Linked DNA regions of Homo sapiens. The protein of the gene in region 1 interacts with the protein of each later gene in a pairwise test. Each region holds a gene or a part of one and is shown in the gene's direction. Other genes may lie near its edges. The genes, in order: FNDC3B, NDUFAB1, DUSP10, ADGRF5, LARP4, CAPN3 and STPG4.

What was found.
Region 2: the proteins of FNDC3B (region 1) and NDUFAB1 interact in binary tests that used the Homo sapiens proteins (3 or more experiments, as listed by UniProt).
Region 3: the proteins of FNDC3B (region 1) and DUSP10 interact in binary tests that used the Homo sapiens proteins (3 or more experiments, as listed by UniProt).
Region 4: the proteins of FNDC3B (region 1) and ADGRF5 interact in binary tests that used the Homo sapiens proteins (3 or more experiments, as listed by UniProt).
Region 5: the proteins of FNDC3B (region 1) and LARP4 interact in a two-hybrid assay, tested with the Homo sapiens proteins (one large-scale study listed by BioGRID).
Region 6: the proteins of FNDC3B (region 1) and CAPN3 interact in a two-hybrid assay, tested with the Homo sapiens proteins (one large-scale study listed by BioGRID and IntAct).
Region 7: the proteins of FNDC3B (region 1) and STPG4 interact in binary tests that used the Homo sapiens proteins (3 or more experiments, as listed by UniProt).

The regions. Positions count from the first base shown.
Region 1 is NC_000003.12:172,249,078-172,252,577, forward strand, and holds part of FNDC3B (fibronectin type III domain-containing protein 3B), read left to right. Parts: intron 1-2,182; coding exon 2,183-2,464; intron 2,465-3,500. UniProt on the Homo sapiens protein: May be a positive regulator of adipogenesis.
Region 2 is NC_000016.10:23,580,514-23,583,415, reverse strand, and holds the end of NDUFAB1 (acyl carrier protein, mitochondrial precursor), read left to right. Parts: intron 1-1,040; coding exon 1,041-1,132; 3' UTR 1,133-1,140; intron 1,141-2,242; 3' UTR 2,243-2,402; downstream 2,403-2,902. UniProt on the Homo sapiens protein: Carrier of the growing fatty acid chain in fatty acid biosynthesis.
Region 3 is NC_000001.11:221,704,090-221,707,589, reverse strand, and holds part of DUSP10 (dual specificity protein phosphatase 10), read left to right. Parts: intron 1-1,123; coding exon 1,124-1,495; intron 1,496-3,500. UniProt on the Homo sapiens protein: Protein phosphatase involved in the inactivation of MAP kinases. Has a specificity for the MAPK11/MAPK12/MAPK13/MAPK14 subfamily. It preferably dephosphorylates p38.
Region 4 is NC_000006.12:46,862,939-46,866,438, reverse strand, and holds part of ADGRF5 (adhesion G protein-coupled receptor F5 precursor), read left to right. Parts: intron 1-1,241; coding exon 1,242-1,397; intron 1,398-3,342; coding exon 3,343-3,500. UniProt on the Homo sapiens protein: Adhesion G protein-coupled receptor. In alveolar type II (ATII or AT2) cells, required for normal lung surfactant homeostasis.
Region 5 is NC_000012.12:50,473,885-50,477,194, forward strand, and holds part of LARP4 (la-related protein 4), read left to right. Parts: intron 1-114; coding exon 115-283; intron 284-1,641; coding exon 1,642-1,980; 3' UTR 1,981-3,310. UniProt on the Homo sapiens protein: RNA binding protein that binds to the poly-A tract of mRNA molecules. Associates with the 40S ribosomal subunit and with polysomes. Plays a role in the regulation of mRNA translation.
Region 6 is NC_000015.10:42,362,501-42,366,000, forward strand, and holds part of CAPN3 (calpain-3), read left to right. Parts: intron 1-3,500. UniProt on the Homo sapiens protein: Calcium-regulated non-lysosomal thiol-protease. Proteolytically cleaves CTBP1 at 'His-409'. Mediates, with UTP25, the proteasome-independent degradation of p53/TP53.
Region 7 is NC_000002.12:47,127,809-47,131,308, reverse strand, and holds part of STPG4 (protein STPG4), read left to right. Parts: intron 1-1,048; coding exon 1,049-1,113; intron 1,114-1,313; coding exon 1,314-1,368; coding exon of another isoform or gene 1,369-1,383; exon of another isoform or gene 1,384-2,861; intron 2,862-3,500. UniProt on the Homo sapiens protein: Maternal factor that plays a role in epigenetic chromatin reprogramming during early development of the zygote.

The DNA.
Region 1 (3,500 bases):
AAAAACTGAAAAAATTTAGTTAGCTGTAATTTTTTTAATGTATTCAGTGCTTTGACTCAACATGCATTAAATAATTGAGTGTTTCTTAGAGCTTTCTGGCTGTATCTGAGCTCTGATGACATGAAAGGCCTTGGTGACTGACTCATTGCTTGCTGGTATATGTCTGACTTGCCTTATTTTAGCAGTCTGTTAGTAGGATGCCACATGGTTACTGTTTTGTAAATGCTGTCCTTTGCAATTTTAGGCAAGACAACAGTATGATTTAAATCGTCATTAGAGTTAAGCAAAATTGTAGTCTCTTCATTTTATGGTGTATTTGGGTCTAATTCCATTAAAATAACACAGAGCAATAATGTATGCAAATAAAAATGCCTTCATTGATTTCAAATTAAAGCAGTAAAACAAAATCCCTTCCCTTTATAAATAAGCCATTGATATATTCTTTTACCTTAGTTCTTAGTGTGCATACCTAAAAGCAATTTAAATATTAATTTTCTAAACTATAAGAGTTTTAAAAGTTTTCAACATGTCTGAAAAGATTATTACTGCCCATAGTGAATATGTTAAATCTCATGTGTAATACATCGTGGTGTTTAGAACATTTACTATCCTTCTGGTATATTTTGACATAGTTTCTTTGGATACACACTCTCTGAATAGGATTATATTTGTTTTGACACGTTCTCTAGTGCAAACTGGTTCTCTCATGAAGATTTGTTTTTTAACAAAACAACTCTTGTTTATGCTTTAGCTATGTTAACAGTAAGAAACAGTGGAGCTTTACTGTTGAGTAATTGAGACAGCAGTTTTGTTAAATTATGCAGGGTAACCATACATTTCTGTTGTGCCTGTGACAGTCCTAGTGTAGGTCTCTTGCCTTGAAGAAATTATTGATATTCCTTCCTTTTCGCTCTCAGAAGTGTTCAGATTTGGATGGTAATTTATATTGTCACTCCATAGAAGAGGTGACCCTTTTTTCTTATAAAGATGTAAGGACCCAATCTTTATGTTACGCATTGTCATTTTTACTGATACCTAAAAATAATTTTGAACTGATTTAAAAATTTAAATTTAACATAAAGTTTTCCCCTTGAGATCATAAGATTGCTTGCAGGCTTCTATTTTCTTTTGAGCCACTTTAAAATGTGCATAGTAAAGTCAGGTGACATTCTACATTTGTCTTGCCTTCTATTACTCCAAAAGAGAAGTTTGAGACCACAGCTTATTATGTTTGGCACCAGATTTCAGAGATGGCTTTTCTTTATCCTTATACTTCCTCCTTGAACATTTCCCCTGATTCTGTGAGCTTTGATTATTTTAAATGGAAATATGTCATCTCATTATCTTAGTTAAATTTGTTCAAATGTTGGCTCTTTTGTATGCCACAGAAAACTTTGACTGCAATATACTTCCCAGTAGAAATACTATTCTGTCTACAGGGATGAGTAGACTTTTAAAGTAGCTTGATTCTAAGTACATGTTTAATAGGGGTATTTTATTTGTTCTGACTTTTTCATGTATTGCAACTACTGAAAACATATTGAAAGGTAAAAATCAAACTCAGTTATAAATGCAACTAGAATATGAGCTCTTTAGGGATAACAACCTTGTCTTCAGTATTCTCTGTAATATAGGAATTTTTCTGAACACACAGTGTAGTTTTTAATGATTGATTATTCCTTGATTGGTTAGAAACAAATGGGAATGCTTTAAATGTATATCATGTATATGGCATTTTCTTTTTTCTTTTTCTTTTTGAGACAGAGTCTTGCTCTGTCGCTCAGGCTGGAGTGCAGTGATGCAATCTCAGTTCACTGCAACCTCCGCCTCCAGGGTTCAAGCGATTCTCCTGCCTCAGCCTCCTGGATAGCTGGGATTATAGGCGCCTACCACCACGCCTGGCTAATTTTTTGTATTTTTAGTAGGGATGGGGTTTCACCATGTTGCCCAGGCTAGTTTCGAACTCCCAAGCTCAGACAGTCCGCCCACCTCGGCCTCCCAAAGCGTGAGCCACTGTGCCCAGCAGTATTTTCTTAAAAAATATTTATTAGACTCTATTTAGTAATACTTTAGACTTCCTTTATACTTTAGACTTCTTCAGGAGCCAGATCATTTGACCATTTAATAATTTATTATTGAAAATGTAAACTGAGTTTGGGTTTATCATAATCATCCATTTTAGAAATTATACCATTTTATGGAATGTCAACCTACATCACCCGAGAAGACCAGTACAGCAAGCCTCCGCACAAAAAACTGAAAGACCGCCAGATCGATCGCCAGAACCGCCTCAACAGCCCTCCTTCTTCTATCTACAAAAGCAGCTGCACAACAGTATACAATGGCTATGGGAAGGGCCATAGTGGTGGAAGTGGCGGAGGCGGCAGCGGTAGTGGTCCCGGAATTAAGAAAACAGAGCGACGAGCAAGAAGCAGCCCAAAGTCGAATGATTCAGACTTGCAAGGTAATACTCAAGATGTTTGCCATAGAGTGAATTATCAAGACAGAGACATCTCAAATGATGTTTCCACATCTTTTACATGAGAATATTATTTCATGGTGGTTGGTTGTTCTGCTAAGAATATTTGAGTAGACCTTCTTTGATCTATTTCTTGGTAAGGAAATAATATTGCATTGTTTATTTTTTATTAATACTTCATGGCAGAAATACTACATTTTGGTCACAGATGCCATGCAACTTTGCACTTAATAACAAATATTTGAAAATCTTTTCATGTTAGCCTACTTCTGTTGTTTCACTCTCTGAATAGACAGATGTGGAAGAAATCCAAAGATAATTTTTCTAAAAGTGTAGGCTAGTTTAAATCTCAAAATAATTATACCTCATAAACCATACGTAATTACTTCCTTTCTGTAATGAAATCTATCATTGAATCACAGAAATATGTTTCTGTTTAGTTTTGGCATCAGTTATTGTCTCATACCACCTTTTGCCTGTGAATTAAGTGTTCAGAAACTAAGAATAAGATGGAAGAATGAGGGCCACCACATATAGGTAGAGAAACATCAACTCAGAATGGCATCTGTCTTTTTGTAGATGAATCTCTTGGGTAGATCAGTTCATTTGGAGGAAGGTTTATGTGTTTAAATGAAGTTTTGGAGGTAGTTTAGAGAGAACCTATTTTGATGCCACATAAGGAAAAACAGTGGCTATTTCTATAGGCATAGGGAAGAATGACTTAAGTGAGGCAAAAAAGGTAGCATTTGGATAAGGTAGGTGAGTTTATAGATATAAATGACTGGAAAACAAAGACTTGAACAACTTTTAAACATAAGATCAATTATTTCAAGTAGATTCCCTTTTTCATTCACAATCACATTCTCACAGACACAGTCCCAGTTTCTACCTGACTGAGATGCAGTAAGGAATCTGATTATAACACTCATTGATTATAACACTCATTGAATTTATGGATTCCTTACTGCATCTCATTCAGGTAGAAAAAGGGACTGTGTCTGTGAGAATGTGATTGTGAATG
Region 2 (2,902 bases), on another chromosome or scaffold:
AGGCGCTCCTCACTTCCCAGACTGGGCAGCCGGGCAGAGGCGCTCCCCACATCTCAGACGATGGGTGGCCGGGCAGAGACGCTCCTCACTTCCTAGACAGGATGGCGGCCGGGAAGGGGCGCTCCTCACTTCCCAGACTGGGCAGCCGGGCAGAGGGGCTCCTCACATCCCAGACGATGGGCGGCCAGGCAGAGGCTGCAATCTCGGCACTTTGGGAGGCCAAGGCAGGCAGCTGGGAGGTGGAGGTTGTAGCTAGCCGAGATCACGCCACTGCACTCCAGCCTGGGCAACATTGTGCACTGAGTGAACGAGACTCCATCTGCAATCCCGGCACCTCGGGAGGCCGAGGCTGGCAGATCACTCGCGGTTAGGAGCTGGAGACCAGCCCAGCCAACACAGCGAAACCCTGTCTCCACCAAAAAAATACGAAAACCAGTCAGGCGTGGCGGCGCGTGCCTGCAATCGCAGGCACTGGGCAGGCCGAGGCAGGAGAATCAGGCAGGGAGGTTGCAGTGAGCAGAGATGGCGGCAGTACAGTCCAGCTTCGGCTCGGCATCAGAGGGAGACCATGGAAAGAGAGGGAGAGGGAGAGGGAGAGGGAGACCGTGGGAAGAGGGAGAGGGAGAGGGAGACCTTGGGGAGAGGGAGAGGGAGAGGGAGACCGTGGGAAGAGGGAGAGGGAGAGGGAGACCGTGGGGAGAGGGAGAGGGAGCTGGGTTTCTTTTACACAATGGTGATGGTTGCACAATGTGAATATACTAAAAACTACCAAATTATATGGTATATACAAGGAGGAATTTTCTATTATGTGAATTCTATCTCAACAAACAAACAAACAAACAAACAAACATACCTCCAAAGCATCGTACCCAACCTGTATGCATACTGTCTAGAAGCTAACTGGCCCACAACCTATATGGGATTCAAGGTTGCTGAAAGTTTTGATATACTTGTAGCTGTTGTAGAAGGGTCAGGTGTGTTCAGTTCTAAAGGATTTTTTTTTTTTAACTCTCTCACATTGTTGTATATTTTTCTTTTAGGGTTTGAAATTCCTGATATAGATGCTGAAAAGTTAATGTGTCCACAAGAAATTGTAGATTACATTGCAGATAAGAAGGATGTATATGAATAAAGTATCAGGTAAATAGACTTAAAAAATGATGTTCACCCATAGATTTGTCTGTGGTTCTTCAATAAAGGAAACTTAAGAAGAAACAGAAAATGGAAATGCTTGACCAAGATTTTTCACTACTTATAAAATGCAAGCCCTTTCCTGTTGTCTGCCACTCAAAGGGGCCCAGCCCTGGTGGTGATCTTTGAGAGGTTGAGAACTGTCATTCCTGGATAGAACTCCCTTGATTGTCAGCTGTCCTCACAAAAGCAGAACATTGTACAAAGTACTGAACAGGGTAACCTGGAAACAGACCTCTGTCTCCCTCAATTACTCAGCCAAGGTAAGCCCAGCCTGCTGGGTAAGACACTGAAGTGACCTGGCTCTTAAGTAGGCAAGAGAGGCCTCATGTATAAGAGGATGGACTTTGGAGTCAGAGACACCCAAGTTTATTCTCAGCTTTGCCACACACTATAAGCCTGGTGGTCTCAGGCAGGCTGCTTAGCTCTGTAAGCCTCAGTTTCCTCATATGTAATATGGTGGTAATGATAGGACCTACCTGGGGCTTTTGTGAAAGCAAAATTGAAGAGAGTATATATATCACTTGATATAATGATGTAAAGAAGCCTCTCAGTAAATAGTAGCTTTTGTTACTTGGGACCTAGAATAATCAAATAAGACTTTTTGAATTAAAACATTGTATTAGTGTTTTTAGTCTTTAGCTTTTAGTGACCCTGCATTTTTTTTTTTTTTTTTTTAAAGATGGAACCTTGCTCTGTTGCCCAGGCTGGAGTGTAGTGGCACAATCTCGGCTCACTGCAACCTCCGCCTCCTGGGTTCAAGCAATTCTCCGGCCTCAGCCTCCTGAGTAACTGGGATTACAGGCGTGCACCTCCACGCCCAGCTAATTTTTATATTTTTAGTAGAGATGGGGTTTCACCATGTTGGCCAGGCTGGTCTCGAACTCCTGACCTCAGGTGATCCGCCCAGCTTGGCCTCCCAAAGTGCTGAGATTACGGGCATGAGCCACTGCACTCAGCCAGAGGCTGCATTTTTAGCACCTGAAAGATGTCACTTATCATTAGTAAGAATACATCAAAAATAACATTGAACTTATTTTGTCTTTTCCAGACCCTTTGGCTTTGCTGAGAGAGGACTCAGATGATAGTGACGAATGTCTGGCAGTGAGGACACATTTTGGCATTCTTGCTGACTCTGACAGAGTGATTCTGATGGACTTGTATTTAAATTGTATGTGTTTTACTCTTTGAAAATAAATCTATAAAACCAACATTTTCCCCCATCTTCAGTTTTTCAATGATGTCTATAAAGTGCTTTTTTATGTTTGTATACTGACATTGCTTAATATTTTTAAAGGTCTGATTTGTCATTTGTATTCATGCATGTCAAAAACAATGGCTTCCCCAGCCATGTACTTGAAGTAAGGCTGTCTCCCCACCTTCGTATCAGGAGTGAATATATTCATGGAAATGGACTTTTTGCTTCAAAAAAAACTTTGTTTTGGTTTCCATTAGCTTATTATCAGATGTGTCAGCTGATATCAGCAGGTGGGACTAGTTTTTCATCACTGTCCTAAAGATCCCTTTTAATACAGTTTAACAGTTTTGGAGAATGGGAGGCTCTCTTTCCTCCTGGAAGGTCAGTTTGACATTGCCACACATCAAACCACAGTTTGATTTGTCACACATCATTATTGGTTCTGCCCCTTTTACTCTTAGCACTGTGTTGGTTCCTTGGGGTTGATGTAAATAACATGTATGCATTGCTTAG
Region 3 (3,500 bases), on another chromosome or scaffold:
TTCCCAAAAGTGAGATTGCACTTGTTCAGGGGAAGGTTTGCATTTTAAAAATGGAGAAATAAGCACAGTTTATAAGCTTTTTATACTAGACCCATAACTCGTGGGAGGCAGAGCAGAGCCGTAAGCTCAAAAGCATGCATTCACACATCCAAAAGAGGTTTCTTGATGGGTTTATGTGCCCACAAGCCTTGGAAAGTCGAGGAGTAAGCAACCGCGCTGCTCTCACATTCTGTTCTACTGAAAGTCAGGGTTGATAAATGTCAGGGCCCTACGTGGAGAATATCAAAAAAGATTATAAGAGCAGTCCTTCACACCCCACCCTGGCTTGTCTTTTCCAAGTACTTCTCTGCTGATTTCACCTGTGGGCAATCATATAAATAATATAAATTAAAATAGTGAATGCCTGCTGAGTTCTACTGTGTGCCAGGAGATGTGCTAAGTATTTTACACGTATTCATTTATCTCAGGCTCACAATTGCACTCAAAGGGAGACACCATCACCCTCAGTTTACAGATGGTGGAACTGAAGCACAGAGATAAATGAACTTAAGTAATAGTGTCAGGAAATGATGGTACCCAGATTATAATCAAGATAACCTGTCTCTTCCAATGTTCCTGCTTGTAACCACTCTGCTGTATTGGGAGCAAACTTGTCCCTCTGGGTGAGGTGAGCTATGAAGGGTGCAAGACATGCTCCTGTGGTGCTGAGATTCCACCCGAGGAGGTCATCTGTGCCTTTCTTGGCTCCCAAAGCACAGGGTTCTATGTAGGCCACTGAGCATATGGCTCTTTGAGGCAGGTCACATTTGCAGCTGAGGAAGATTGCCTGATGCCGCGTGGAACTCTTGCTAGGGGAACATGCCCTCATTTGTAGAAAGAGCACATTTCCAAAGTGTTCCATGCAGTGATACTCCCCGAAGCTTGTCTTGGGTCTCCAAATGGACTTTTAGTTTTTGTTTTGTTTTGTTTTATTTTTATTTTTATTTTTTTTGCTTAAATACATATTTATATATGTATTTAAAATATGCATGAGCTACAATGCAAACTCATTCTAATGGGGAGGTGGCATTCTCTGCCAGCTCTGAAATCTCAGTCACACTCACCTTCTGTGTTTGTGTTCTAGGTGGACTTAGTAGTTTTAAGCAGAACCATGAAAACCTCTGTGACAACTCCCTCCAGCTCCAAGAGTGCCGGGAGGTGGGGGGCGGCGCATCCGCGGCCTCGAGCTTGCTACCTCAGCCCATCCCCACCACCCCTGACATCGAGAACGCTGAGCTCACCCCCATCTTGCCCTTCCTGTTCCTTGGCAATGAGCAGGATGCTCAGGACCTGGACACCATGCAGCGGCTGAACATCGGCTACGTCATCAACGTCACCACTCATCTTCCCCTCTACCACTATGAGAAAGGCCTGTTCAACTACAAGCGGCTGCCAGCCACTGACAGCAACAAGCAGAACCTGCGGCAGTACTTTGAAGAGGCTTTTGAGTTCATTGGTAACTATCTCCCATAGGGAATTTTCATCCGCTGCCTTCCTTTTCCCTCCAGCTCTTGCTTTGATATCAAGTTCAAGGTTTATTCCTGTGTTGGAAAAGAAAAGCTGCCCTGGAGTTTTGGAGGGCTCTGCCACCTGAAACAGCCTAAGCATTCTCCTAAGTCATAGCCTGTCGAGTGTATCCAAGCCATCAGGATGGATATAAAAGGACAGTAATTGAATTTGTTGGGATCTGTTCAACTAGAAATCCTCATCCCTCAAGTTCTCAGTGAAATAGTGGTAGGGGTTAGCATTTATGTGCTCTGTAACCAGAAAAGTGGATGGAAAGTAAGGAATCGGAGGTCAGAGCTGGTGCTACTGCTACTTGATCTACTAGCGCCGTTGAGCACCTTGGAAGCAATATCTAGTGAATATGACACCCCTTCCAAACATACCTATGCCTTCCGGTCACCCTACTAAGCCTTATTCATCCAGCATAAGGGGAGATGGTACTAGGTTTCCTTTGACAGTCTGCCCCAAACTCATTGAACTAGGAAAGATCAGGTTGTGTAGACGGAGTAGTTCCCAAGGAGGAAGTTTTAGCAACAGCACGCTTTGATCCCCAGAAGGAAGCAACTATTAGCCTAATCCTAATCTTAATTTCTGCAACTTCTATAGCCCCAAACTGCTATAAGACTCAAAATATCGCCGGGCGCGGTGGCTCATGCCTGTAATCCCAGCACATTGGGAGGCCGAGGCGGGTGGATCACCTGAGGTCAGGAGTTTGAGACCAGCCTGACCAACATGGAGAAACTCCATCTCTACTAAAAAAATACAAAATTAGCCAGGCGTGGTGGTGCATGCCTGTAATCCCAGCTACTCAGGAGGCTGAGGCAGGAGAATCGCTTGAGCCTGGGAAGCGGAGGTTGCAGTGAGCTGAGATCACGCCACTGCACTCCAGCCTGGGCAACAACAGTGAAACTCTGTCTCAAAAAAAAAAAAAAACACTCAAAATATCATTTTGGGAGCACCTGCAATATAGCAAAACTCAACATTTATTTTTTTTTACGTAACTTCAACTTTTATTACCATAAAGGGGTGGCCTAGTACTTTTCCTAAATATTACAGCAGGTTGTTATTCCAGGAAGAATACAGTTAAGTGGAGTGGGGTGTTCCTTTGTCAGAGAAAGAAAAAAACAGCCTCAGGTTTAACAGCCAGTGGGGTCTGGTGGATTTGCTGTAGTGTTGACATCTCTGGTCATTTTGCCAAGCTGTTTTCCTTGCTAATTATGCCGTCAGCACAGGACCATGGAATATTGAGTCTGAAAGGAAATTCAGGGTGATCACTGAACTTAGAGAAGTAAAGTGACTTCTTCAAGGTCATAGGAATTCTAGTGTCCAAGAAGGGGCCAGAATCCAGGGTTTTTGACTCCCAAGCCTGAGGCCTTTTCACAACACACTAAGGCAATGTTTATGATGCCCTATTAAGTAATTCCCAACTGGCAACACTGAGGATGCAGAGATACTGCAGATTCTTTATTAATAAAATCTGAGCCAAACCTGGAGCGCTGAGGAAGAAAAATTTCTCAACAAGCATATGAGGAACTTCTGGTTGATACATGATGTGATGTTATGACTGAGATTCCATCTGACTTAACTCCAGTTGGAGGAAGTTAGGAAATTGTTTTCTATTTAATGAGTAGGGTAAGATATACTTGTTCTAAGAGGATTTCAACTAAAGCTCCTTCTCACATTCCTTATAGATTATTCAGGCTTACCTGCCTTTTTTTTTTTTTTTTTAAGGAAAACAAAACCAATAACAAATAGCATTCAGCCCGAAGAACAACTCCATATCACAACCTGCATAGGCACAATTTTATTTTCATTGTTATATTATTGGATAAACTGAAATCTTACAGTCTTGCTTTAGTAAAAACACAGCAGGTTTTATAAACATAATAGCTTTCACTGAGAGTGTAATATAAGCTGAGCAGCATCTAAGTTTAGTGTTTATACCAGTTTATTTA
Region 4 (3,500 bases), on another chromosome or scaffold:
ACCTTGGGTTTTAAGGCTCCAGAGGGCATAAAAGTAAAGACTGTGCTCCCTAAACACACAATGGGTCACTCACACCCCATTGACACAATGTTAAGACCTTCAAAAAGTGGCACATTCAGTAAGAGACTAAGCTAGGAAAACAAAATTCATCTGCCAGAGTTGAGACCTTGGCCTCATCTCTGGGTGGACAAAAGGTTTCCCCCAAAAAATATAGTTGTCCTGCCATCACTCAGGTTTGGGCTTTGAATTTATATTTCCTTTGTGGTTCAGGAGTGCCAACCTAAGTTTAAAGTTGTCCATTGGTAGCACCCTATGTCAACCAGCAAAAAAAGAAAAAAAAATCAAAGTCTCTCTGGTAGATGGTGCCCTTAATCCAGATCCCTAGGGATTCCCAGAGATTAAGGTCAACCAGCATGATCTCACAACCCAAAAATCTCAAAACACAGACAACTTCATGAGGGATTTACAAGCTCATTCATTTTTTCAATAACTATTCTGGAGGGCTTACTCAACGCAAGACACCATAGTAGGCAATGAAAGGGAGAAAAAAGAAGTGGGGCACATATTTTAATATCTAGAAGGGCCCATGCCCTGAAAGGCAATGCATATAATATAAAATATCCAAATAGAATAATACAGACTAAAAAAACAGTAGAAGTTCAGAAAAGTGGGGACTCAATAAACACTGTAGTCTTTAAAGAAGGCTGCATGGCAGAGGGATATAATCAATCTGGATTTTGACATATGCAGCATTTCAACATTCTGTGTTTAATATGCATACATTCAGTGCTTTCTATGCACCAGATACTGAGCTGAGCACCAGGAGATGGAAAGATAAATAAGACAAGGTACTTTCTCTCCAGGAGCGTATGGTCTAGTAGAGAAGACAAACTCATGAATAGGTGACTATATACCAATATGGTAAAGGCAGAATAGGATAAATGCTCAGAGCATGATGAAATTTAGATAGGGAGAAGGATTTGTGGAATGCTGAAAAGGCATTCTGAATGTCAAAAATGTGTGACTTGGAGTCATGAATGGTAGAGGAGAAGTTTTGACTAGCACACATGCAAATGTGGGCTTACATACTTCAAAACCCAGAGGTAAAACCTGTTAAAAATGAATGTGGCACATTCCTCGGGAAAGCTTGGACAGGTTTATTCATATTAGGTTATCTTAACACAATTTGTGCATTAGAGACTCATGTTGTGACTTAATTCTTTCAATAATTCTGTCTTCAGCAAAAGAAGTTAACAAAAAACAAGTGTGCTACAAACACAATTTCAATGCAAGCTCAGTTTCCTGGTGTTCAAAAACTGTTGATGTGTGTTGTCACTTTACCAATGCTGCTAATAATTCAGTCTGGAGCCCATCTATGAAGCTGAATCTGGTTCCTGGTAAGAACGTTTTAAATTACTTTAAGATGTTATAGTCAGGGCAGGGACTTATTTATTTATTCACTCCCTCATTCATCCCCATTCAATAAACATATGTTAAATACCCTCACTGTGGTAGGCCCTGGGCTCACCATAGTGGTATTTAAAAGAAAAGAAATAAGCCATGTCCCCTGGCCTCAAGCCTAGGGAAGAAATCTATGTGATAAAAAAATGTTATTGGCCGGGTGCGGTGGCTCACGCCTATAATCCCAGCACTTTGGGAGGCCGAGGTGGGCAGATCACGAGGTCAGGAGATCAAGACCATCCTGGCTAACACGGTGAAACCTCGTCTCTACTAAAACTACAAAAAATTAGCCAGGCATGGGAGCATGCACCTGCGGTCCCAGCTGCTCGGGAGGCTGAGGCGGAAGAATCGCTTGAACCCAGGAGGCGGAGGTTGCAGTGAGCCAAGATCGTGCCACTGCACTCCAGGCTGGGCGACAGAGAGATTCCGTCTCAAAAAAAAAAAAAAAAAATTATTACATGTAATACAGTAAGAGCTAAATAGAAATGTTGTGGGTGGCTTAGCTCTGCTAAAGGAGTTTACCAGGTGATTAGAAGTGGACAGTATCAATGTGGTTGAGGTCCTTTGGGGTTTCAGCAAATGAAAGGTGTCCACACTGCACTGTTTTTCTGAGACAAGGCTACATGAAAACAATTAATCTCGAGAATAGGCAGCTGCCTTTCCCATCCTTTGCCACCACTGAGTCAATTTGCCATCACATAATATCTTTGAGGTGAAAGTTCATGTTTTACAGAGTCATTGCTATGCTAGCCCATGTTGGGGAGCTCCCCTCAGCAGCAGGGAAGGATAGATCATCCTAATACAAGGTCATCTTAAGGGAGAATCTTATGTTAAGACAAGGGGTAAATGATGACCCTGGGCTTCTACCATAAGCAACTCCTCATCCTCTTAAATCTTCCCAGCAACAGGACTTGTGATAGACAAAGGATCGTTATCACCAAGATTGTTTGAGTTTACTGAATAGTTTGTGGTCATTCTCACATGTTGGCAACTAGCCCCTGGGCACCAAAACAGGAAACAATTTAGAGTCACTTTCACCTGACCTTTCCACGCACAAGTACAACCCCTCCAGGGTGCAGCAAAGGTCACCTCTTCTTTTCCCCATCACTCATCTTAGCCAACACATTTTATTCACTTATCTTTGTTCTTCTCCTCTTTCTTTATACCAAATATGGTTTCGCTTCTTTTTCCTAGTAGAACATTACTTATTTAAGATTTATATACAGTGGTTAAGATCTTAATGTTAAAGAAAAGTGTTGGTGAGGGAGGGGTCTCATCAGAGTCAGGGTCCACTGGACATGAGAGATTCCACAGCAAGTGTCATTTCCCCATCCTTGCCTGGTCATGAGAAGAGGTGAAATAGAATCACCTCTAAGGGAAACCAGAAGGAACAAATGCTTAAACATATTGATTAGAATATTCAGGTCATGGGTACCTAGAGTTCCTACTAGCAATTATGTCTTTGGATTATGGCAGTGATTCTCAACCTTGACAGCACACTGGAATCACCAGGGAGGCTTAAAAACCTGCTGATGCCTAAATCCCGCTCTGACGATTCCGATTTACTTAGCCCAGACACTGGTGTTTTCAAAAGCTTCCCAGATGATTCTAATATGTCACAGTTGAGAATCTCCAGATGAAGGTATAAAATTCTGTTAGGAAAAGGAAGTTCCGATTACAGAAGTCAGGTTCATGTGGAAAGCAGAGAGGGGCTTTGGAAAATCAAGGGCAAAATTAAGAAATTGGGTAGTTCTGAAAAGGTGACGGAAAGTAAAGGTAAATGTGAATTCAAACATCAAAATTCTACCTTGGCCTGACCGTATTTCTACTATATTGTCTCTTCCTTGCAATTATCCCTTTATTTCAATGTTTCCAACACAGGGGAAAACATCACATGCCAGGATCCCGTAATAGGTGTCGGAGAGCCGGGGAAAGTCATCCAGAAGCTATGCCGGTTCTCAAACGTTCCCAGCAGCCCTGAGAGTCCCATTGGCGGGACCATCACTTACAAATGTGTAGGCTCCCAGTGGGAGGAGAAG
Region 5 (3,310 bases), on another chromosome or scaffold:
GGGTGACAGAGTGAGACTCCGTCTCAAAAAAAAAAATTACGTTTTCTTCTGATTAGTTGCTCAACTGTTCCTATATGCTATTCTGAGTCTAATTGCAAGCTCTTTTTTCCTTAGCACAACTCAGCAAGAAAAGGATCTAATAGAAGATTCCTCTGTTCAGAAGGATGGTCTCAATCAGACAACTATACCAGTTTCTCCTCCAAGTACTACAAAGCCATCGAGGGCAAGTACTGCTTCACCATGTAATAATAACATAAATGCAGCTACAGCTGTGGCTCTACAGGTAACTTGAAGATTTTAGTTTATGTTAAAAAAAATACAATAGATTAGATTTTTTTTTTTTTTTCACGTAACACTTTGTTAGAACAGAGTCATTTGGAAGTAGCCCAAGTTGGGGCTGACTATCAGAAAGAAGCTTAAGGAGTGTTAGGGTCACTGCAAAGAGATGGAAAGTTTTAGGCTTTTTTTTGTTTTGTTTTGGAGACTGAGTCTTCACTCTGTCGCCCAGGCTGGAGTGCAGTGGCACGATCTCGCGTCACTGCAAGCTCCGCCTCCCGGGTTCACGCCATTCTCCTGCCTCAGCCTCCCGGGTAGCTGGGACTACAGGTGCCCACCACTATGCCTGGCTAATTTTTTGTATTTTTAGTAGAGACGGGGTTTCACTGTGTTAGCCAGGATGGTCTCAATCTCCTGACCTCGTGATCCACCCGCCTCGGCCTCCCAAAGTGCTGGGATTACATGCGTGAGCCACCGCGCCTGGCCCATTCTGTTTCTTTTGATTGCTTTTTTTCTGTTCATATGGTTAAGTGAAGCTTCTTCCTTACCCACGTTAGGATGAATTTATCATTTTGGGGCTAACATAAAGAGGCCTTGTGCCTCTTGATATTCTTTTGGTTGTATATGTGATACTTAACAAGTCTATAAGTGGCCATTGAGAGGCCACTCCCATTTATCAAGTTCCAGAATTGTTTTATAGTTATATAATTGGGAAAATACAGAAAAGCAGAACAAAACACAAAATTTACCTATAATCCCTAGCATTTTAGTACAGCACTTTTAAAAATAGATTTAGAAGACTATCTTCTCATTCAATGATAGTAATAATACTAAAATAATAGCTACCATTTGAATGCTTACTATATATTATTAGGACTAGTGCTGAAGACTTTACATGTTTTATTCTGTTCTCACAATACCTCTATTCCACCTTTTTCAGTTGAGGTAATTAAGACTTTTAATGAGTCTTTTTATACCATTGGATTCTAACTGCTCTGCTGGGATTCTTTTGTCATCTTTCTTGGGGTTCTTTGTAGCAAGGAAACAGGAGCAGAAAGAACCATTTTATTTCATCATATGGCTATACCATTATTCATCTAATCTGTCCTTTGTTAGGCATTTAGGTCGCTCCCATCATTATAAACAACGCTGACATGAACATCCTTCAGTTAAATTCCTTACGTGAAATTATTGTATAATAAATAAAGATTGTACCAGTGTACTCTAAGCAGTATATATGAGAGTGCTTGTTGCCCTTTTCTGGAAGATAATCTGTGGTTTTCTTATGGTTAACACAATCATTTTTATACTTTATAATTTAAAGAATGTGTACCATAAATGTTTTTTTTTATCATCACTTCAAAGGAACCCCGAAAGTTAAGTTATGCTGAAGTGTGCCAGAAGCCCCCTAAAGAGCCATCTTCAGTTCTTGTGCAGCCACTACGGGAACTTCGCTCCAATGTGGTGTCTCCCACCAAAAATGAAGACAATGGAGCTCCTGAGAACTCCGTTGAGAAACCACATGAGAAGCCAGAAGCAAGGGCTAGTAAGGATTATTCTGGCTTCCGAGGCAATATAATCCCCAGGGGAGCAGCAGGAAAAATCAGGGAACAGAGACGCCAGTTTAGCCATAGGGCTATACCTCAGGGAGTGACTCGACGTAATGGCAAAGAGCAATATGTGCCACCCAGATCACCAAAGTAAAAAACAACAAAACTATTCAAAAACTTCACTCTCTTCCCATTAAACTTGAACTGTGGCTATATTGAACTGTTTTGGAGGGGAGGGGGTAGCCAGGAAGGAAACAAGAGAAAGTACGTCCATTTCATTATGGATTTTGGAGTTGTGAGTGATAGGATCCCAAAATTCATCTCTAATGTGGTTTTTAAATGCTGGAGGATTCCAATCAATATAAATATATATATATATATACACACACATATATAAAAAGTATAATTTTTCTATTTTTGTTTTTGGTTTTAATTTGCAGAGATTTGCTGCCAGGAATCAATTTTGAGGGTTCAGATTTAGCTTGGAAGAAAAAAAAGAAACATACATCCTTCAGTATAGGAGATGAGGGAATGAGAGAAAATATTTTTTGAAGAAGCATTTCTGTAAAATTAGAAATTACTTTTTTTAATCTATTTAAAGTTTGGCTTGAAGAATGCCATCTCTGACTATATGGCCTTGTATTGCAAAGCGGATCAGTGGCTGGGGTGCCTGTTGTGGGTGTGAGTGTGTACAAGAGCGATTGAAGCCAAATCTGTTGTCATGTTAGTAAATGATTTGAAAACTGAATGTAATACTTGAGTAGATTTTTTTTTCTAGTTTGAAATTTAGTCTGTCTTTTTGACCTTACTAATATTTCATTTAACAAGTTGTAAAACTCTGATTGTACTTAGAGATGTGACTACCAATCAGTTTGATACTCAAGGAAAGGGGGTTATTCAAGAAATTGAAAATTTCATCTTGGACCTCAGTGCATAGGTCAAATGGATTTCAGAGGTTTAAACTTCCCTGTGATTCCCCCGAATACCCCCAAAATGAGAAACAAAATTTTTTTTCTTACTCCATTTGTTACTCTCTGTTCTTTGACTGCCCACCCACAGAAAAGCAAAATAACCAACTACCTACTCAATTGTGTGTTTGTAATTGCTTTGAGCAGTCTAGTCAAATCATATAAATTGTTCTAAATTTCAGAATTGAACATTGAAGTATTAACTCTTCTGTTCACACATTTAGAATTTTAGCTCCCAAGATGGTAGGGCAGACTGACCGTACAGTAATTTATTTGTCGTTAGTGTTAAAGATTAAGCATAGTAACTGACTCTTAAGTGTTAAATAATGTAGAAGTAAAAAAATTTTTTTTAAAGGCTTAATTTGGGAGGGGGGACTTATTTCTGTTTACAGTGTATTACCTTCCTTCCCTCCTCTTCTCCCCCCACACCCAACAAAATACAGTTTGGAATTCACTGAAACAGTACCAGCAAGTCATGAGATTTTTTAGTAAAGATGAGAAAGATGGTTGAAGAAA
Region 6 (3,500 bases), on another chromosome or scaffold:
CCTGGATTTTCCACTGTTTGAGTCACTAAAGGACCAGATAACAAAGGCCACTCTTGGATAAAATGCCCACATGTTCCCCTGGGGTTAAGATCACAGGAACACTGCCCATTGGGTTCACTAGCATAAATGAGAAATATAAAATTAGAGATGGTCAGAGTTGGAATGATTCTTGGAGAGGTGCTCCAGTGTCCTTGCTTTATAGGTGATTAAGGCCCAGAAAGGGCAAATGACTTATCTACAGCCACACAAGTTGACTTGGAACTGAAAAACTGAAATGACTCCAGAACTTTCTGACTGTAAAGCACTTCTTGGAGACATCAGTTCTCCATAAACTTCTTCAGATGTAGTGACCTTTGCCAGCCCTATGCAGTCTGAAAAGACTGTGTCCTATCAGGAGAAGCACCACACAGGTGAGTAAAGGCCTTCCTGCTTTTACTGTCTAAGGCACAGAACCTTTGGAAACCAATCTGAATTTTTTTTCGACCATCAAGTATTATTTATTATAATTACAGTGATAATGATAATAATGATAAAGGGAGAATTATTCCTGGCCAACTATAATTCTAGTTAAAATAGCATGCTGCACTTTCAGCCTTTCCCTCTTAAAAGAAAACAGGCTCTGGCCGACTGTTCCCAGCTCACCTGTAATCTCTTCTCTTACTCACCAGTGCTACCTCACAGACTTTCTTCCTCTACTCGGGAACATCATGCATTGAGTTTCCAGGGCAAACAATCTGGTTCCTCTAGACTTTCCTTATATGATCTATTTCTAGGATCAGAAAGCAAACAAATTATTCAACACTTCTCAACTGTTAAGGCAAGTTTTCTTGATGACAGATCCCAGGGCAGAATAGAATGGGTTCTAGAACAGGGCTTCTGGGATGCTGGTGCCCAATATACTAGGGATAGGTTGGGGATGGGAGGGCAGGTCGTGTTTCATTCCATGGGGTGGAAGGTTCAATTGCACCACACTCCTGGCCTGTCTCCTTCCCATGGTGGGTTTGTAAAGAGAACTTGACCTGTAAAGCCCAGTTCTTGGCTTCTGTCTTTCTCTGGGAAGCAAGCTGCCTGCAAGAAGCATGGCTTCTGCTCTCTGCCCTCCTTGCAGTAAGTTTTCTGGAGGCAAGTCCCCATGGGGAGTCATGCAGGAGTCCCTGGGCCACCTGGTAATGTGTGGTTAACAGTAAAGATAATCGCTAATCTTGAGTGAGAACTCACCACATGCCAGTAACTAAATGCTTTCCATATGTTAATTCATTTAATCTTCACAACAATCCTGTGAGGAAGTACCATTATTGTCCCACTTTACAAAGGAGGGAACTGAGTCTCAGAGGGATTAAATAACTCGCGCCAGATCTCCCAGTTAGTGAGGGTTGGAGCTGGGATTTAAACCCACACAATCTGGCTCTAGAGCCCCAAATCTATCTAATTCTGAGATTTAGATGTCAATATCCATTTTTATTAAACAATAAATGTGGGATTTTGGACTCCCACCTGCCCTGCACTTTTGTAGTATTCCTTTATTGGCTCAAAACTCATGCATGGAAGTAAGGTGTCATTTATTGGGCCTCCTCAAGACACAACAGGCATTGAGTGACACCCCAGGGGTTGCCCCTGAAAGCATCAGCCTCTATAAGTTGGAGATGGAATGGCACAGTGGCTAAGAGCCCAGGCTCTGAGGTCAGATAACCTAAGTTCAAGTCTGGGCCTGCTACCTAACACTTAGGTAATCTTGGTCACATACTTACCCTCATTTTGCCACAGGTTCTCCATGTGAAAAATGGAGAAAAACCATAATTGAAGAACCCATCTCTTAATTAATTGAGGATTAAATGAGTTAATGCAGGCTAAAGGCTTAAGACCAGCACATGGTTGAGTGCTCAGTAAACATAGACTACTCTTATTACTGCCTACAAGCAGCTATGCAGTCTCTTAAAAGTGGCAACATCATAAACATTTTTCCAGCTTAATTTGTGCCTATGACCAGTCAAGATATTAGCTACAGCAATGTGTTTGAGTACTTCATGCCTGGTCTAAATGCATCCATCCATCTCAGCATGAGGATGTGTGTGTGAATGCTCCCCTCATGGGCAGGGGACTGCTTGTCCTTTAGGGCAATTCTAGTTATCTACATCAAATATAAAATGTACATTTGGTTGTGAAAATCTGAGTGTATCATAGAGCCAGGAAGGAGACTACAAAAGAGGGATCACACTTGGCTGGGAAACTTGGCACCTTGCCCAGTGATTGGCTTTAAAGGCTCACTGAGACCAACTTGCTGAGCAAGGGCTTCGTTTTTCCCATCTGCATGTGCCTCAGTCATGCCAGGTGGAGAGTTCTTAAGCTTCTTCTCTCTCATCTCCTGCAATTCCCAAAGCAGGGGCAACCTAGATCCCTGCTTCTTTTGGAGGGATGAGAAGTGAAGGGCCAGTTGCAGGACCTTGTGATGAAAAGGTATCTGGTCCTCTCCTCACCCTTGGTAACATGGGATCCCAGAATTGCTCCACAGGGCCCTGCCCTGCACCATCAGCTCAGCTGGCCAGGGCTTCCAGCAGTGGACCCTGACAACAATGAGGTTCCTGGGCTCCTCCTGTCTCTGGTGCTAGGTGGAGTCACCTTTCTGTAAATTCCATGTTATTCCAGACCCACCCTAACCTAGAGCTTGGAGAAGGAAGGGCCCACCGTATTTAGCAGCTGGATTAACCCAGACTTCAGGTTAAACTTCCCTCCATCAGCATGGTCTCAGTGTTTCTTGGCTCTGCTAGGAGAGGTTATTTCTGGTTGGGCCTCCAGTTCACAGCCCTGAATCGGAGTCAAAACTGCATCATTGATATACAGCCACCTCCAGCTTAACCTCCAGCTCCTTCCCTAGGAAATCCGTTCTCCCTTCCTCCACTGTCCTCCAAGCTCCTTGGGCTGATAGCTGGGCCTTGCAGTTTCTCATCGCAACCTTCTGCTTAGCTCTCTCCTCTATTTGCTGTTGGGAGTTGGGGGAGCTTGCCACCTTCCCACTTAACTCCAGATCCAGTGCCTTCTCACTTGCTGATGGTGGCTGGAGCTCCAGCTATGGGTCTTTTCCCCTCACCTTTTCCCCTCACCTCTTTCCCTCAACTCCTGTCCCCACCTCTCTGTCATTACAGGGCCCCACCCGTTCCCAGCTCAGAGCTGGGTCTCTACTTCAGCCACATTTCTCTGGTGTTTGCCTTTCTTCCTGCCAGGTATTACTATCATACCCATATCCATCTGTGCTTTGCCCAGTAGTCCAACCTCACCCTTAGCCCTGCTCTTCTTCACTCCTGGGGCCAGCTAGTGCCCTCCACCAACACCTGGACCTGTGGACACCTCTTTCCCAGACAGACGGCAGCAGCCTCTTAGTCCTCTGAATAGATGACTTTATTCCTTGTATTCTGGTACACAGAAATCTCTTGAATTAGGCTTATTTTAAGAATAGAGTTTAGATAAGTTTCCCAAGCTATAATTCATCATGAACCTTATTTTCC
Region 7 (3,500 bases), on another chromosome or scaffold:
TTAAGACCAAGAAAATTAGCCAGGTATGGTGGTGCGCATCTGTGGTCCCAGCTATTTGGGAGACTGAGGTGGGAGGATCACTTGAGCCTGGGATGTCGAGGCTTCAGTGAGCTGTGATCACGCCACTGCACTCCACCGTGGGCAACAGAGTGAGACTTTGTCCCTAAATAAATAAATAAAAATAAGATGTGATCAGGTCAGGTACAGTGGCTCACACCTGTAATCCCAGCACTTTGGGAGGCTGAGGCAGGAGGATTGCTTGAGCCCAGGAGTTCAAGACCAGCCCGGGCAACATAGTGAGATCCTGTCTCTACAAAAAATAAAAAAGTAGCTGGGTGCAGTGGCACACACCTGAAGTCTCAGCTACTTGGGATGTGGAGGTGGGAGGAGCACTTGAGCCCAAGAGTTTGAAGCTGCAGTGAATTATGTTCATGCCATATCATTCTCCAGCCTGGATAACAGAGAACCTATCTCAAAAAAAGAAAAAAAAATGTGGCTGGGCACGGTAGTTCATGCCTGTAATCCCAGTACTTTGGGAGGCTGAGGCAGGTGGATCACTTGAGGCCAGGAGTTCAAGACCAGCCTGGCCAACATGGTGAAACCCTGTCTCTACTAAAAATACAAAAATTAGCTGGGCGTGGTGGTGTGCACCTCTAATCCCAGCTACTCGGGAGGGTGAGGCAGAGAATTGCTTGAACTGGGGAGGCGGAGGCTGCAGCGAGCGGAAATCACGCCACTGCACTCCAGCCTGGGCGACAGAGCGAGACTCCATCTCAAAAAAATAAAAAGAAAAACTGTGATCAATTTGACATTTTCCTATGCAGCATCTCAGGTATGCTGTCTATAAAATTCACCATGAAGACCGAATCTATGTTAAATGTTTTGAAGCTCCACCTTTGGAAATGTACATTTTCCTTTTCCACTATTAAAGTAAAGAAGGAATTATCCAATGTTGTATGGTCATAAAATAAAAGATTACGAATGACAGATAACGAAGTGAGTTTACAACCTCTATTAATCTATTGGTGTCCTTGTCCATTCTGTGCAGTCACTTCAGCTTTCTCCGGGGCAATACAACGTGCTTCCTGCACCAGTTCCCAAATATGCTTCCAGGTAATTATATACTTATTAAATAAGCTGCCTTTCTGTTTACATACCTACACGCCAATACTCCTGGCTTTTAAACCTCATTTATGCACCTCATATGCAAATTAACATTTTAAAATATTTAATGAAAGGTAGGGAATAAGTTAACAAAGATCTTTAAAAAATAGATTTAGAAAATCACTTTTCTTTTTTATTTTGAAATATAGGAGCTGTGTATTTCGCTCAACAGTTCAAAGATTCCCAACAACCTATTTTATTCCCGTAAGTATAATGTAGACAGTTAACTCATGATGAATTTGATGTTTAAAATACGCTGTGCTTTCTGGAGTGGAGCAAGGTGGCCACATAGAACCCTCCAGTGATCGTTCCCCCTAGCAGGAACACCATTATCCACACAATTATCCACACAAGAAAACACCTCTGTAAGAACCAAAAAGCAAGTGTGGGATCGCAATACCAGGTTTTAACATTGTATCAAGGAAAGAGGCACTGAAGAGGGTAGGGTAGAAAAGACAGTCTTGAATTACTGACACTACCCTCCCCCATCCCCTGGCAGCAGCCACGTGGCATGAAGAGAGAATCTGCCCTTGGGGAAGAGGGAATGCCGTGACGGGGGGACTTTGCACGGGAACACCGTGCTGCCTGTAACAGGGAAAGCAACACAGGACAGAATTCAGCTAGTGCCCATGGAGGGAGCATTTAGACCAGCACTAGCCAGCCAGGAATTGCCCATCCCAGCCGTTCGATACTGAGTTCCAGCTCTCCCTACCACTGTGGGCTGAAGTGCTCTGAGGTCCTAAATAAGCTTGAAAGGCAGTCTCGGCCACAAGGACTGCAGTTCCTGGGCAAGTTCAGGTGCTCTGCTGGGCTCAGAGGCAGTGGACTTAGGGTACACAAGACCTAGTGAGACACCAGCTGGGGCAGCCAAAGGAGTGCTTGTAGCAGCCATCCCCCAGCCCCAGGCAGCACAGCTTGCAGCTTCAAGAGAGAGGCCTTCCTTTTGCTTGAGAGGAGGAGAGGGGAGAGTAAAGAGGACTTGTCTTGAATCTGGATACCAGCTCAGCCACAGCAGAATAGGGCACCTCAGGCAGAGTCCTGAGGCCCCCATACCAGGCCCTAGCTCCCAGACAACATTTCTAGACACATCTCTGGCTGGAAGAGAATCCACTGCCTTAAAGAGAAGGACCCAGTTCTGGCAAGATTCATCACCTACTGACTAAAGAGCCCTTGGGCTTCGAATAAACACCAGCAGTGGCCAGACAACACTCACTGCAGGCCTTAGCCAGTGCTGTGCTGCTTCAGGTGTGATCCAGCACTTTCCCAGCTACAGTGGTCACAGAGAGAGACTCCTGCTTGAGGAAAGGAGAGGGAGGAGTAAAGGGGATTTTGTCTTGCAGCTTGGGTACCAGTTCGGCCACAGTGAAGTGGAGCACCAAGCAGGCTCCTGGGGTTCCCAATTCCAGGCATTGGCTCCTGGATGTCATTTCTGGACTCCCACTGGGCCAGAGGGGAGCCCACTGCCCTGAAGGGAGAGACCCAGGCCTGGCAGCCTTCCTCACAAGCTGACTGAAGAGCCTTGAGTGAACATTAGTGGTATCCAGGCAGTACTTGCTACAGGCCTGAGTGGCATAGAGAGATTCTTTCTGCTTGAGGAGAGGGGAGGGACGAGTGGAAAAACTTTGTCTTCTGGCTTGGGTGCCAGCTTAGCTGCAGTAGTATAGAGTACCCAATAAATTCCTAAGTTTCCTGACTCCAGGCCCTGGCTCCCAGATGGTATTTCTGATCTGCACTTGGCCCAGGGGGCAGCATGCTGCCTTGAAGGGAAGAGCCTTTGGGCCTTGAGTGAACATGGGCAGTAGCTAGGCGGTAGTTACTGCAGCCCTTGGGTGAGACCCAGTACCATGCTGGCTCTGACCCAGTGCAGTCCCAGGGATATTGGCCATAGAGGTGCTTGTGTCACCCGTCCCTCAGCTTTAGGCATCTCAGCACAAAGAGAGACTTCGTTTGTTTGGGGGAAGGGAAGGGAAGAGAACCAGAGTCTCTGCCTGGTAATCCAGGGAACTCGCTCAGATCTTATCCAAGACTACCAAGGCATTACCTCTACAAGTCTACCAGAATCACAGCAATTACTAGGCTTGGGGTGCCCTCTAATGCAGACACAGCTACGGTGACCAAAGACAGATTACAGCACTTAATTCCCTTTGAATACTTGGAGAGCCTTCCCAAGAAGGACAGGTACAAACAAGACCAGCTGCAAAGACTACAATAAACACCTAACTCTACAATGCCCAGACATCGGCAAACATATACAGGTATCAAGACCATCTAGTAAAACACAACCTCACCAATCGAATTAAATAAAGCACGAGTGATCAATCCCAGAGTGACACAGA